4 linked regions of the Homo sapiens genome follow. The protein of the gene in region 1 purifies or fractionates together with the protein of each later gene. This does not show direct contact. Each region holds a gene or a part of one and is shown in the gene's direction. Other genes may lie near its edges.

Evidence for each region. The genes of interacting proteins can lie anywhere in the genome.
Region 2: the proteins of ASPH (region 1) and ACAD9 purify together in Homo sapiens (co-immunoprecipitation; 3 studies listed by BioGRID and IntAct, with this or other methods). This does not show direct contact.
Region 3: the proteins of ASPH (region 1) and FAM162A purify together in Homo sapiens (co-immunoprecipitation; 3 studies listed by BioGRID and IntAct, with this or other methods). This does not show direct contact.
Region 4: the proteins of ASPH (region 1) and EXD2 purify together in Homo sapiens (co-immunoprecipitation; 3 studies listed by BioGRID and IntAct, with this or other methods). This does not show direct contact.

What each region holds. Positions count from the first base shown.
Region 1 is NC_000008.11:61,519,093-61,522,592, reverse strand, and holds part of ASPH (aspartyl/asparaginyl beta-hydroxylase), read left to right. Parts: intron 1-3,500.
Region 2 is NC_000003.12:128,910,620-128,913,614, forward strand, and holds the end of ACAD9 (complex I assembly factor ACAD9, mitochondrial), read left to right. Parts: intron 1-121; coding exon 122-194; intron 195-1,887; coding exon 1,888-1,988; 3' UTR 1,989-2,495; downstream 2,496-2,995. UniProt on the Homo sapiens protein: As part of the MCIA complex, primarily participates in the assembly of the mitochondrial complex I and therefore plays a role in oxidative phosphorylation.
Region 3 is NC_000003.12:122,404,682-122,408,181, forward strand, and holds part of FAM162A (protein FAM162A), read left to right. Parts: intron 1-2,599; coding exon 2,600-2,708; intron 2,709-3,500. UniProt on the Homo sapiens protein: Proposed to be involved in regulation of apoptosis; the exact mechanism may differ between cell types/tissues.
Region 4 is NC_000014.9:69,197,998-69,201,497, forward strand, and holds part of EXD2 (exonuclease 3'-5' domain-containing protein 2), read left to right. Parts: intron 1-3,500. UniProt on the Homo sapiens protein: Exonuclease that has both 3'-5' exoribonuclease and exodeoxyribonuclease activities, depending on the divalent metal cation used as cofactor.

The sequences.
Region 1 (3,500 bases):
GAGAACAGGATGGGGAAAACCACCCCCATGATTCAGTTATCTCCACCTGGTCCCTCCCATGACACATGGGGATTATGGGAACTATAATTCAAGATGAGATTTGGGTGGGGATGCAGCCAAACCATATCACTAGGGATGAGAAAATGACGTGTGAGGACACAAGAAGAAGGTGGCCACCTAGGAGCCAAGAAAAGAGGCCTCAGGAGAAACCAAGCCTGGCCACACCTTAATTTTGGACTTTCAGCCTCCAGAACTGTGAGAAAATACACTTCTGTTGTTTAAGCCACTCAGTCTGTGGTATTTGCTTGTGGCAGCCCTAGCGAACTGATACAGTATCCAAGTAGTTTCATTAGGACTGAACTATGTTTTTTTAAAGGACTGGCTTTTTAGAGTTGAAGGAAAAAACCAGAATCAGCAAATATAAATAATGATTTTGTTCCCCAAAAATAACTTTTTAAATTGTTATGTGAATATTATGGAACGTCTATTTTGCTCTTATCTTAATAAGTGCCACCAACAGTGATTAAAATATGCCACACATGTGCAGTCATTTTTTTCTTCCAGAGCCCATGGGAAAGGTGCTAACTGACCCCAACAGCCTTTCTGAATAAGCTGAGGCTGAACCTCTAAGTCCTTCTCAACGCAGTGTTCTAGGTGGCTGCTAGCAACTGATCAGAATTGTCATGCAAGATGGAACCTGTTGTTGCCCCAGAAGCAGAGCCTTGAAATTTATAAAAGATACAACCCAGGATATCAGTTCCATGAATAGCCCTCACAAAGTATATTCATGTGTAAGAAGTGATAAATTTAAATGATTCTTCCAGATTTGCATTGGCTGTTAGATCTCTTTCTAGAGCTATTTTCCCAAAGAAGCAAGGTTTATTACTTCTTGAGGGTTAGTTTAACGCTGGTGAGAAATAATCAAACGACAACAAAGCCACAGTGAGTTGCAGATGCTGGGCATTCCTCTTCAGGCTGAGTTAACTGGTTTGCTCCTGCACAGCTGCCTTCTAACTTACAATGCAACAAAATGAGAAATTATGCTTTAAAGCATAGGCTTTGGAAACCAACAATCCTAGGTTAGAGTCCTGGATGCACCGCTTGTTAGCTGTGTGATGTGTGCATGTCCCTGAATCTCTGAGCTTCAAATCCCTCATCTGAAAAATGGCAAATAGTGCCTCAAGTATGGGGTTGTTACTAGGATCAGTGAGCACTAGATGAAAGACTTGGCACAGTTATCCAATATATGATAGTAATATTATATTTTTATGGTCTAACAATAGCACATGATGTAATAACAGTAGTGGAGAGGTGGTCTCTGGTCTGGTTAAGAGCATGAACACTGGGTCCAGTCTGGCTGAATTGAAATTCCTGCTCTGCTGTTCGCTATGTGACCCCTCTGTGGCTCAATTGCCTTTCTATAAAATACAACACTAATTGAGCCTTCTTATGACATGTTGTAGACATCAAATGAGGCACTCTCATCATGCAGAGTGGTTCCTGGCCTGTCGTGAGCATCAAGGAACTGCCGTTGCATTCCTTGGACCCTCATGATCAGACGTGAAGAGTTAAAATGACCAGTGACAGTGCATGAATGCCCAGAGTCTACTGCACAGAGAATCTGGGTTTACAGACCAGAAAGATAAATGTGTCTAAAGAGCTAGAGGTGTTCTCTAATTCCTTGAAAATCTCAGGGACACAACCCATTTGGTTACCCATTCATCACCTGTCATTCAGGTAAGGCACATCTGTTCTCCAGGTAGCACATGCTCAGCCACCTGGTGCTTGTGAGAACTCCAGGCCACCTATGGTTGTTCCCCAAGCCACCAGTTTCACTTAACTGCTGCCTGGACAGCACAGAGCTCAGAATTGGGGACTCCTGCCAAGCAGCCCCAGGCCCTGCATACCAGAAGACTTGGAAAGCCCAGGCTCAAAAACACTTTACGGTGACTCGTAGGTTTATGTAATATTCACCCAAACTGACATTTATTGTTCATTTGGGGAACTCCATTAATAACTAAAAATAGCAATTAACATTTTATTCAATTAAGAGCCAAAAAGGTTACTTAGAAAAAGCTAAGTTGTTTTCTAAAACATTGAGCTCCATTTGATTGGGGTGAATACCTTTTAGTTGCGTTTTTTGTAACTCTTATTTTATTCTCAGTATGTGATTATCTTAGGACACAATTAACATTAATTAAATAAAATTAAACTCAGCTTTAGATGTAGCAGTCTCTTTTAGGAATCTTGAATAGGGAATTAAAATGTCTCTGACTTTTAAAAATCCCATTGTTTTACTCCCCCGTTAGAGCAGATGACATTGTGTACATTCTGAGCACATCTTCCCTAATAAGCAGGGGCTTTATAGAGTGTAAAGAAATTTGCATAGTTCAGGATACTTAAATGACATGTCCCAGAATCTGTGCTCTTGACAGTTAATCATAGAATATGTCCCCTCTCAAAGACGCCTTCTTCATTTAAATCCTATTCTTTATCATCATATAAAGGATGATCTGGATATGGAAAAGACATTGAAGTCCAATAAAAATAGTGTTTTGGCAACTAATATAGTCCTAGAAATGCATTTCTAAGTTAGAAATATAATATAAGCTATTTTCCTTCTTTAGGGGATGTATTAGTTTCCTGTGGCTGGTGTAACAAATTACCACAAAACTTAATAGCTTAAAACACAGACACATTTATTATCTTATAGTTCTAGAGGTCAGAAGTCTACAATAGATCACACTGAGCTAAAATACAAGTGTCACCAGGGCTGTATTCCCTCTGGAGTCTCCAGCTTCTAGAGGCTGCCCACATTCCCCGGCTTGTGGCCCCCTTCCATCTTCAGAGCCAGCAGTGGCCAGTCAAGTCTTTCTCATACTGTATCACTCTGACACTTACTCATCTGCCTCCTCCCACATTTAAGGATGCTGTGATTACCTTGGGCCCATCCAGGTAATCTTGGATAATCTCCCTATTTTAATGTGAGCTGATAAGAAATCTCAGTGCCACTTACAGCCTTAATTCCCTCTTGCATGAAAGACAACATATTCACAGGTTATGGGATGAGGGTATGGACATCTTTTGGGAGCTAACTATTATTTTTCCTGTCACAGGGGAAAAAATAAGTACAGTTGGCCTTTGAACAACGTGAATTTGAATGTTATGGGTCCGCTTATGTAAGAATTTTTGTCAATATATTGGAAATTTTTTTGAGATTTGTGGCAATCTGAAAAAAATTTGCAGATGAACCTTATAGCCTGGAAATATTTTTTAAAATTAAGAAAAATTAGGTATGTCATGAATGCATGAAATATATATAGGTACTAATCTATTGTATCATTTACTATATATATACAAATCTATTATAAAGAAATAAAATTTATCAACATATGCATGGAAGCACTTACAGACCATACATAGCACCATTCATAGTCAAGAGAAATGTAAACAAACATGAAGATGCAGTGTTAAATCATAACTCCATTAAATTAACTGTA
Region 2 (2,995 bases), on another chromosome or scaffold:
CTGTGCCAGGCCTTGTGACCCCTGCCATGCTACCCAGTTTGGCTGATAGGCTGGGTTTTTGAAGCTCAGAGGTCTGATTCCAGGAATTTGGGCATATCTTTTCTGTCCTCGGTTCTGGCAGGTTCTCTTGGCCAACACCTTCTGCGTGGAAGCTTACTTGCAGAATCTCTTCAGCCTCTCTCAGCTGGACAAGTGTGAGTGGCATGTCTTGGGGGAGGGAAGGAAGGGCCCACTTCTAGGCCCCTATTGATGGTGAGCTGTTTCTGGACCCTGTCAAGCTCCCAGAGCCTGCTAGCTACTCACAGACCTCTGCCTTGAGCGAGGGCCTGGGTAGGCCTGGGCTTAGCTGCAGCAGTGCCCACCAGGCACTGTAGGTGCATACCTGCCCCATTCACCAAGGCAGTTGTATGTATATATGTGTGTGTGTGTATGTATGTATGTATGTATTTATTTCGAGATGGAGTTTCGCTCTTGTTGCCCAAGCTGGAGTGTAATGGCGCAGTCTTGGCTCCCTGCAAACTCCACCTCTTGGGTTCAAGCGATTCTTCTGCCCCAGCCTCCCGAGTAGCTGGGATTACAGGCGCACGCCACCACGCCCGGCTAATTTTTTGTATTTTTAGTAGAAACAGGGTTTCACCATGTTAGCCAGGCTGGTCTCCAACTCCTGACCTCAGGTGATCTGCCTGCCTCAGCCTCCAAAAATGCTGGGATTACAGGCATGAGCCACCGCACCGGGCCTGCCAAGGCAATTTTAGATTGAGCAAGTGCAGAGCCCTTTGCGCAGGACCCCTGGCATCTGCCCAGCATGCCTGGCTGTATTCTCTTTTTTTTGGAGACATAGTCTCACTTTGTCACCCAGGCTGGCTGGAGTGCAGTGGCATGATCTTGGCTCACTGCAACCTCCACCTCCTGGGTTCAAGCAACTCCTGTGCCTCAGCCTCCTGAGTAGTTGGGATTATAGGCACGCACCACCATGCCCAGCTAATATTTGTATTTTTAGTAGAAACAAACAGGGTTTCACCATGTTGGCCAAGCTGGTCTCCAACCCCTGACCTCAGGTGATCCGCCCACCTTGGCCTCCCAAAGTGCTGGGATTACAGGCATGAGCCACTGTGCCCAGCCCTGGCTGTATTCTTGAAGCTGCCCGGGGAAGGCTCACGAAGGGAGGAGCATCTGGTTGTACCTGATTCTGGAGACAGCATTTTACCTGCCCCTTTACCCACTGTACTCCATCCAAAATGACCCTGCAGTGCCCTGCAGAGGTCTCAGGCCTTGGCCTAGAGAACAGAGGGCTTTGCTCGTGCTCCCCGCTCTGTCTGCAGTGCTCTTCCTCTTCTATAGCCACTCGACCATATCTAGGAATGCCCAGCTCAGTCTACCTCTGACCCTCACAGTCCTGTTGACCTGAGGTTCTGGATCAGTGTCCCCACAAAGCCCAGTCGTGTTGCCAAGTGATGGGTGTAGGCGCCAGCACTGTGGCACTTGCTGAGAGTGGCATATGATTTTTTGCAGGTCCTAGCCCTGGGGGTAGCCCAGACACCCCCCCAGTGCTGACAGGTTATGTGCTGTGGAGGGTGCTGAAATGGTTTCTCCTCCAGTGGGCTGGAATCACAGATGGGCTGTTTACGGAGCAAGTGCCGGCTCCACCCCATGAGATCTGGGGGTTAGAGATGAGCAGGATGAGTCCTTTGTAACTGAGAATGAAGCTGTACCCCTTTCTCTCCCTGCAGCCCTGAATCACTTGCTGGGGGTCTGGAGGAGGGGTTCACCCTTAGGGCTGCTTCATGGTGGGTGGGCTGACTTTGTGGAAAAATGCCCCCACTTCAGCCATGTTTGTCTTATCACGGTGCAGAAAGATCACCCACCATCTCTCCTTTTCCTTCCCAGATGCTCCAGAAAACCTAGATGAGCAGATTAAGAAAGTGTCCCAGCAGATCCTTGAGAAGCGAGCCTATATCTGTGCCCACCCTCTGGACAGGACATGCTGAGGCAGGGGACAGTGTCCCCTGCTACCGCCCGCCCCTACCCATGGCCCGTTGCTGGATGACTGTTACTCTTTTTTCAGAAGGTGTTGGGATTATCACAGGTTAAGCCTTTTGTTCCCCGTCTGCACCTGAAGGGTTGTCGCCTGGCCTGGGAGAGCCTCTTCCAGGTTTTGACCTGCAGGCAGTGCTCTCTAACAGGACCATCACAGCTTCTGAACTGAGCCGGAGAGAGAGAATGGAATTGCTGACCCCTGGAACTGGCGGGTATTCTGGTCATTGAGGAGACACCATAGTGGAAACTGGGGCTTATGCTGCTGCCTCCAGGGTGTGAGGTGGGTGGGGACCTGTGTCAGGTGTGGATAGCCATTTCTGCTCAACCACACATTCTCTAAGAAACAGCTTGAAAGCTCTGTCTGGGTCATTCATTTAAACTAGAAGCAGAGGCACTTAAAACATGTACCAGGAACCATTTAACAAAGAATATAAAATGTCACAATCTGTGTACTGTTAGCCTTTGCTGTACTTGTCACACTGTTCCTTAGAACCAGCCTTTAATGGGTGACAGCAGGACCCTGAGAACCACCCTTTGGTGATGGCCTCGGGTCCCCTTTGTCCTCACCCTGCAAGGAGGGCCCAGAATGCTAAGGAGCAGACACACAGTGCAGGCCACAATCCCTTGGGGTTATGAGCCCTTAGTTTTTATCCTTCTCAGGAGATGATGGGGAGGCTGTCTCAGCTGATGATGTTCCCACCTAGGGACTTTAGTTTCTTTACAAGAACTGGCTTCTACTCTTGAGGAGAGGATGAATGGTATCTCCAGGCCAGCAGGCCTTTGCATTTCTCCAGCCTCCCTTCTGCTGGCACTTGAAAGATTACACCAGGTCCCAGCGTGCTCACTGTGGTGAACTTTAAGCTTTGATGTGGTCCTTGGGTGGTCTGGAGCTCTAAAATGCCTATTGTGGACACTCCCTTGAGCACAGAGAAGGCAGCCGACTCTTTTTCCTCCAAGT
Region 3 (3,500 bases), on another chromosome or scaffold:
AGTACCATTGACAATGACTGTATTCCCCCAAATCCACTTAAGTACTCAACCTTAGGTGTAAAAGTATTTAATTGCAATATTCTGGAATTCAGGAAAGAGTGCTTCCTGTCACCAACTTCCTTAAACCTAAGGGAAGGGATCTTGGCTGGGATCATGGAACTTTTTCAGAGTTTGTAGATGATGAGTGCAGGTTCCTCCAACCCAGTTTCTCAACTCAGTACTATTGATATTTGGGGCTTGATAATGCTTTGTGGCAGGGGGGTGTCCTATTTGTTGGAAGATGTTTGGCAGCATCCCCGGCTTCTGCCCCCTACATGCCCGTAGCATTGCGGCAGTGCTGACAACCAGAAATGTCTCCAGACACTGCCAAATGTCCAAGGGGCACGAGCGGGGTGGGAATCTCCCCTGGTTGAGAACCAGTGCCCTAGCCTCATGTTAAAGACCCTGACTGGCTGGCATCTTGGCTAAAAAGAGATTCTGAGAAATAGATGTCATCTCCTCTGTGAGGCATCATCCTATTCAGGGACAGGGACTTCAGACAAAGCTCGTGGAAGTTCCCTGTCAGCAAGAAACTATTCCTGGATCTTCTGGTCTCTGGTTTCAAGTCATGATTGAAAAAGATCTGAGCTCATTCAGGATTTCTTTCCCAGGGAAATATGTAGTATTTACTTTCTGTTTACAACAGCTTTAATAGAGCTTTTCTGCTTCTGCCAGTCAAATTGATAGCACATTACTTTAACTAGAATTATTTCAGCAGGAAAGCCCTGGTTTTTCTTAGCTCAAGTCATGTATTCTTCTGGGAAATAAGAGAATACTGGAAATAACAGTGACATCAGGTTCTTGCCTATGCCCTAATTCTTCCTATACCAGCAGAAAATAAGCTGGTAGACACCCATGGCCTTAACAGATGCTGTATAGGCTTTGCTATAGAACACCTTCCTCAGTCTGCCTAATAGTTGGTTCCAAGATCCCCTCAGGCCCAAAATACTACCTCACGAATCACTCTGGAAGGGTCTTTTCTGGGCCTGGGCAGCCATTTGTCCTTGTGCTGGTAGTTCTGAACAGGCACTGCTTAACTTGCCCATTCCTATTACTCCCTATGGAATGGATTACTTTTCATGAGGATCATGGCACTTCAAATCCCATAAAATACCGTCAACATGGGAAGTCAGTTTGTGGTTAGTGGAATCTCAGGTGCTCCTAACTGACCAATTTGACAGTCCTTAGCAGTTGTCTTGGGTTCCTGCCAGCCTGCAGGCCCAGCTTAAGTGCCTGGAGAACCCCGTCCACATGCTGCCTCACAGGTCCCAGCTCCTACATCACATTGTACATGGCTTCATCATCTTCCTCCTTCCACCTGCAACATCCCAGACTCTTTGCCTCCTTCCAAGCATTTTTAAAGTACTCCCCTCCCCAATTTTAAAAGTAATATATGTTAAATATCTCAGGGGAAAGAAAGCACTTCAATCCCATCATCTAGAGATAATCACTTCCTATTTACACATCTACTGAGAAGGCCATAAGTTAATCCTGGGCCCCATAAGGGCTCCACATCCCCTGCCTTGAGGTTCTGCCAGACACCGAGGTAACAGAATCGTGACCACCAGGTGTGGCAATGCATGCCTATAGCCCCGGCTGCTCAGGAGGCTGAGGCAGGAGGATCGCTTCAGTCTAAGATTTTGAGTCAGCAACATGGTGAGACCCCATCTCTTTAAATAAAGTAAATTAAAAATAGAACCATGACTCACTGCCTACTTGCAAAATCACCAAGGTAGATTGGCCTTTAGACTCTTCTATATTAAGCCTCTTAGGTTTCACACAAGAATGATGAACCAACCATCAACTTTTTTTTAAGGCACATGGGTCTGTATTCAGTAGATAGGTTAGAAGAGCTGCACTTTGGCACTTGCCAAAGACCACAATATCAAGTTCACTGTCACTCAATTTTAGCAAAACATTTGTTTAAAAAGATAAATATTGAGGAGCATTGCTTAAAGGATCTTCCTACTATTTTAGATATTCTCAAATCTATTCTGGGTTCAAGACAGAGAGCAAAAAGCTGGGTATATGGAGCACATTGGTTAACTTTCTCCAATGTTTGATCATTCTGAATTGTGCTTTGTGTTGAAACATATGAAGCTTATTGTAGTATCTGTTGTCGAGATGTTTTCAGACGATGACTACATCACATAATGTCTTCTTAAGAACCTCAGGGAGAAATGACTGTTTCACTTCTAGCATTTATAGGCTGCTTGGAAACCTGAGAGCCAAAATTGGGGTCCACCATAGCAAGTGTAGATTAATATGCCTTGCCCATTTTTTTTTTTTGGCTTTGTTCTTGACTTCTCTTTTTGTTTTCTTCTTTTGTACTTAATTGTGTGCTATCCTGTATTTTATACATAAATGAGTTACGAAAAATGCCTCATCCTCCCCAAAGTCCTATGAGATCTCTAGGCCCTTTTTAAAGAGATCTCTAGGTCTCCCTATTTATATTTATAGACACTACTACATTTTGAATTTATACACAGCCTTTTATCCTGAGCAACTTCAGAAAGGGAAAAGTTAATAACTTTCTCTCATGATCTCATTGTATTACTAGGTTGGAGATGCTTGATGCTGCAAAGAACAAGATGCGAGTGAAGATCAGCTATCTAATGATTGCCCTGACGGTGGTAGGATGCATCTTCATGGTTATTGAGGGCAAGAAGGTGAGAAGGGGTTTCTTCTCTATCCAGTATGTATGTTCTCCACCAAGAACCTAGAGTAAATCAGGGATTGACCCTTGTATTTACCCTCTGAGAAGAGGAGGCTACTTTCTACATTACATGAGAAAAGATAAGCAAAAAAATAAGACATATTGGGAACAAGCCTGGAATATCATCCTTGGGGATAGATAGCAAATCCTAACTTTGGCGTGGTGAAGAAGGACTAGATTCATTTTGTGTAATGTAAATTTAAAAAGTGTTTCTGATGACAGGTGTCATAATGTAAATTAAGAAATAGGACACTGGCATATTTAATCACCCACTGCATATTTCCAGAGTGCTCTTGGTACCCAAGTGTATTTACCCTCACCATAACTGCCTTCAGCATGGTGAGCTTTCTTAGCGGGGTTCTTTATTTGAAGCTCAGCCAGACAGGGCCATGTGTCTAAGGACCACAGCTCCTAAGCAGTACATAGGAATACAAGTCCAGAAATCTTTAGCACAGATTATAATTAATAGCTATCACTAATTGAACACTCACTGCATTCCAGGTACTTTTCTAGCTGGTATCTCATCTGAACCTCACAAAAACACTGTAAGATAAGTATTATTAGGACCTGATTTATAGATGAGGAAAACTATAGCTTAGAAAGCTTTAGTAACTTGCCCAAGGCCACATATCTCCTTAATGACGAGCCACAGTGTGAACCTAGACCCAATTCAGGTAATAGGAAAATTCCTCCCATTTATTGAGTGCTTATTATGTAACAGGCACTGTTAAGCTCACTTAATCAC
Region 4 (3,500 bases), on another chromosome or scaffold:
CATCTCCACTCTTCTGGTCTTCTTCTAGATCTTCACTAAAGTTTTCTGTTCCTCTTTGTATTGATCTGACACATTTCTTGTTGAATTCTTTCCTAGACTTGTGTATGTGATTATGTGGTTTTTTTATGTAGTTTTAAAATAGTATACAGGTATATTGCTATTATGAATGAGATTTCTTTTTTCACATTTTTATAATAGGTTTGGAAAGCTATTGATTTTATACTCATCAGACTTTCTGAATTACCATATAATTTCTAAAAGTTGGTTGATGACTTTGTTGTTTTTCCAGGTGGTTGTGATGCAGTCATTCTGTTCAGGAGCTGTGGTTCTTTTTCATTCTACATTCCTCTGCCATAATTCGAGTATTCTTTGCCTCTCCGCTCTGCTTTATGAGCTTCTAACAGGTCTCTCTGCCTACGGCCTTGCTCTCCTCCAGGCTAGCACCCACATTAGTACCATGGTGGTCTCATCCTGTCACTCTCCTTATAAGTCTGTTATTTGCTCTCCAGTGTCCTGTAGGATAATGATGGCCCCTCATGACTTGTCCTGTATCTACTCATTCCAGCATCATCTCTATTTCCTTACTTGCACATTATATTTTAGCACAGTAGTGTCCATTAGAAGTAGAATGTGAGCCCCAATTTAAAATTTTCTAGTAGCCACATTAAAGATATAAAAAGAAACAAGGTGAACTGTAGTAATGGCATCACTTAATGAGGATCTGTTCTGTGAAATGTGTCATTTTGTGAACACGATAGAGCACACTTACACGAACCTAGATGGAATAGCTGACTACACACCTAGGCTGTATGGTATAGCTTATTACTCCTAGGCTATAGACCTATATGGCATGTTATTGTACTGAGTCCTGTAGGCAGTTGTAACACAGTGGTAAGTATTTGTGTATCTAAACATACCTAAACATAAAAGTACAGTAAAAATGTGGTATAAAAGCTAAACAGTGGGCCGGGCATGGAGGCTCACGCCTATAATCCCAGTACTTTGGGAGGCTGAGGCGGGCAGATCACCTGAGGTCAGGAGTTCGAGACCAGCCTGGCCAACATGGTGAAACCCCGTCTCTACTAAAAATTTAAAAAATAGTCTTGTGTGGTGGCACACGCCTGTAGCCCCGGCTACTCAGGAGGCTGAGGCAGGAGAATCGCTTGAACTTGGGAGGCAGAGTTTGCAGTGAGCCGAGATCACGCCACTGCACACCAGCCTGGGCAACAGAGTGAGACTCCGTCTCAAGAAAAGATAAATAGTGTTACACTTATGTAGGGTATCTACCATGCATGGAGCTTGCAGGACTGGAAGTTGCTCTGGGTGAACCTGTGAGTGAGTGGTGGGTGAATGTGAAGGCTTAGGACGTGACTGTACACTACTTTAGATCTTATAAACACGTGTGTATTTAGGCTACACTCAAATTATTTAAAATTTTTTTGGAATAATAAGTTAACCTTAGTTTACTATAACTTTTTTATTTTATAAACTTTTTAATTGTTTTAACTTTTTGACTTGTAATAACACTCAGCTTAAGACACAAATATGTTGTACAGCTGTATAAAAATGTTTATCTCTTTATAAGCTCTTTTCAACTTAAAATTTTTTTTTTTTTACCTTTTTAAACTTTTTTGTTAAAAACTAAGACACAAACACATACATTCATGTTAGCTTAGACATACACAGAGTCAGGATCATCAATATCACTGTCTTCCACCTCCACATCTTGTCCCACTGGAAAGTCTTCAGGGGCAATAACAGGCATGGAGCTGTATCTATGATAACAATGCCTTCTGGAATAACTTCGGAAGGAGCTGCCTGAGGTTGCTTTACAGTTAATTTTTTTTATAAGTAGAAGGAGTACACCGTAAAATAAAAAATATGGTAAATAAATAAACCAGTAACATAGTCGTTTATTGTCGTTATCAGGTATGTGCTATACATAATTGCATGTGCTATACTTTTATACGACTGGCTGTGCTGTAGGTTCGTTAACTCCAGCATAATTACACACATTTGTGAGTAACGCATTGTGCAGCAACGTTAGGACGGTTAGGATGGCTATGATGTCACTAGGCAATAGGAATTTTTCTGCACCATTGTAATCTTATAATTTTGTAGAACTATTGTATGTGTCATCTGTTGTTGACCGAAACATTGTTATACAGCACATGACTATATTGAACCCAGTATATTCCAAGCATTATTTCAACATAAATATTAAAAAATCAATATGGAATTCATAGTGATAGAAGGTATAATAGGGCTTATCAGGGGTTAGAAGAGAATGGGAATTCTTGTTGAATTACAGTTTCTATTTGCAAGGATGAAGTTGTTCTGGAAATGGGTGATGGTGATGGTTGCACAGCAGTGTGAATGTACTTATTGTCATTGAATTGTACACTTAAAAATGGCTAAAATGGGCCAGGCGTGGTGGCTCAGGCCTGTAATCCCAGCACTTTGGGAGGCCGAGTCTAGGGGATCGCTTGAGCTCACGAATCTGAGACCAGCCCGGGCAACATTGTGAAACCCCATCTCTACAAAAATAATACAAAAAAAAAATTACCCAGGCATCGTGGGGACTACCTGTAGTCCCAGCTACTTGGGAGGCTAAGATGGGAGGATGGCTTGAGCTCAGGAGGTGGAGGTTGCAGTGAGCCAAGATCGCGCCACTGCACTCCAGCCTTTGCGATAGAGCCAGACCTTGTCTCCAAAAAAAAAAAGGCTAAAATGGTAAATGTTATGTTATATATATTTTACCACGATAAAGAAGTCACCATAAAAATCAGTATGAGGCCAGGCGTGGTGGCTCACGCCTGTAATCTCAGCACTTTGGGAGGCCGAGGTGGGTGGATCACCTGAGGTCAGGAGTTCGAGACCAGCCTGGCCAACATGGTAAAACCCCGTGTCTACTAAAAATACAAAAATTAACCGGGTGTGGTGGCGGGCATCTGTAGTCCTAGCTACTTGGGAGGCTGAGGCAGGAGAATTGCTTGAACTCGGGAGGCAGAAGTTGCAGTGAGCTGAGATCGTGCCATTGCACTCCAGCCGGAGTGACAAGAGCAAAACTCCATCTCAAAAAAAAAAAATCAGTATGGAAATTATAAAAAGTTTACATCCTTTTTTTGTAGTAAGTATTCAAAAATTTGGTGTATATTTTACATGTATAATACATCTTACGTTGGTTTTTTTTGTTTGTTTTTGTTTTTGTGATGGAGTCTTACTCTGTCCCCCAGGCTGGAGTGCAGTGTTATGATCTCAGCTCACTGCAACCTCCGCCTCCTGGGTTCAAGTGATTCTCATGTCTCAGCCTCCTGAGTAACTGGGACTACAAGCACATGCCACAATGCCTGGCTAATTTTTGAATTTTTATTAAAGATGGGGTTTCACCATGCTGACTAGGCCGGTCTCAAACTCCTGATCTCAGGTGATCCTCCCACCTTGGCCTCCCAAACTACTGGGATTACAGGCATGAGCCACTGTGCCCACCTACATTTTAC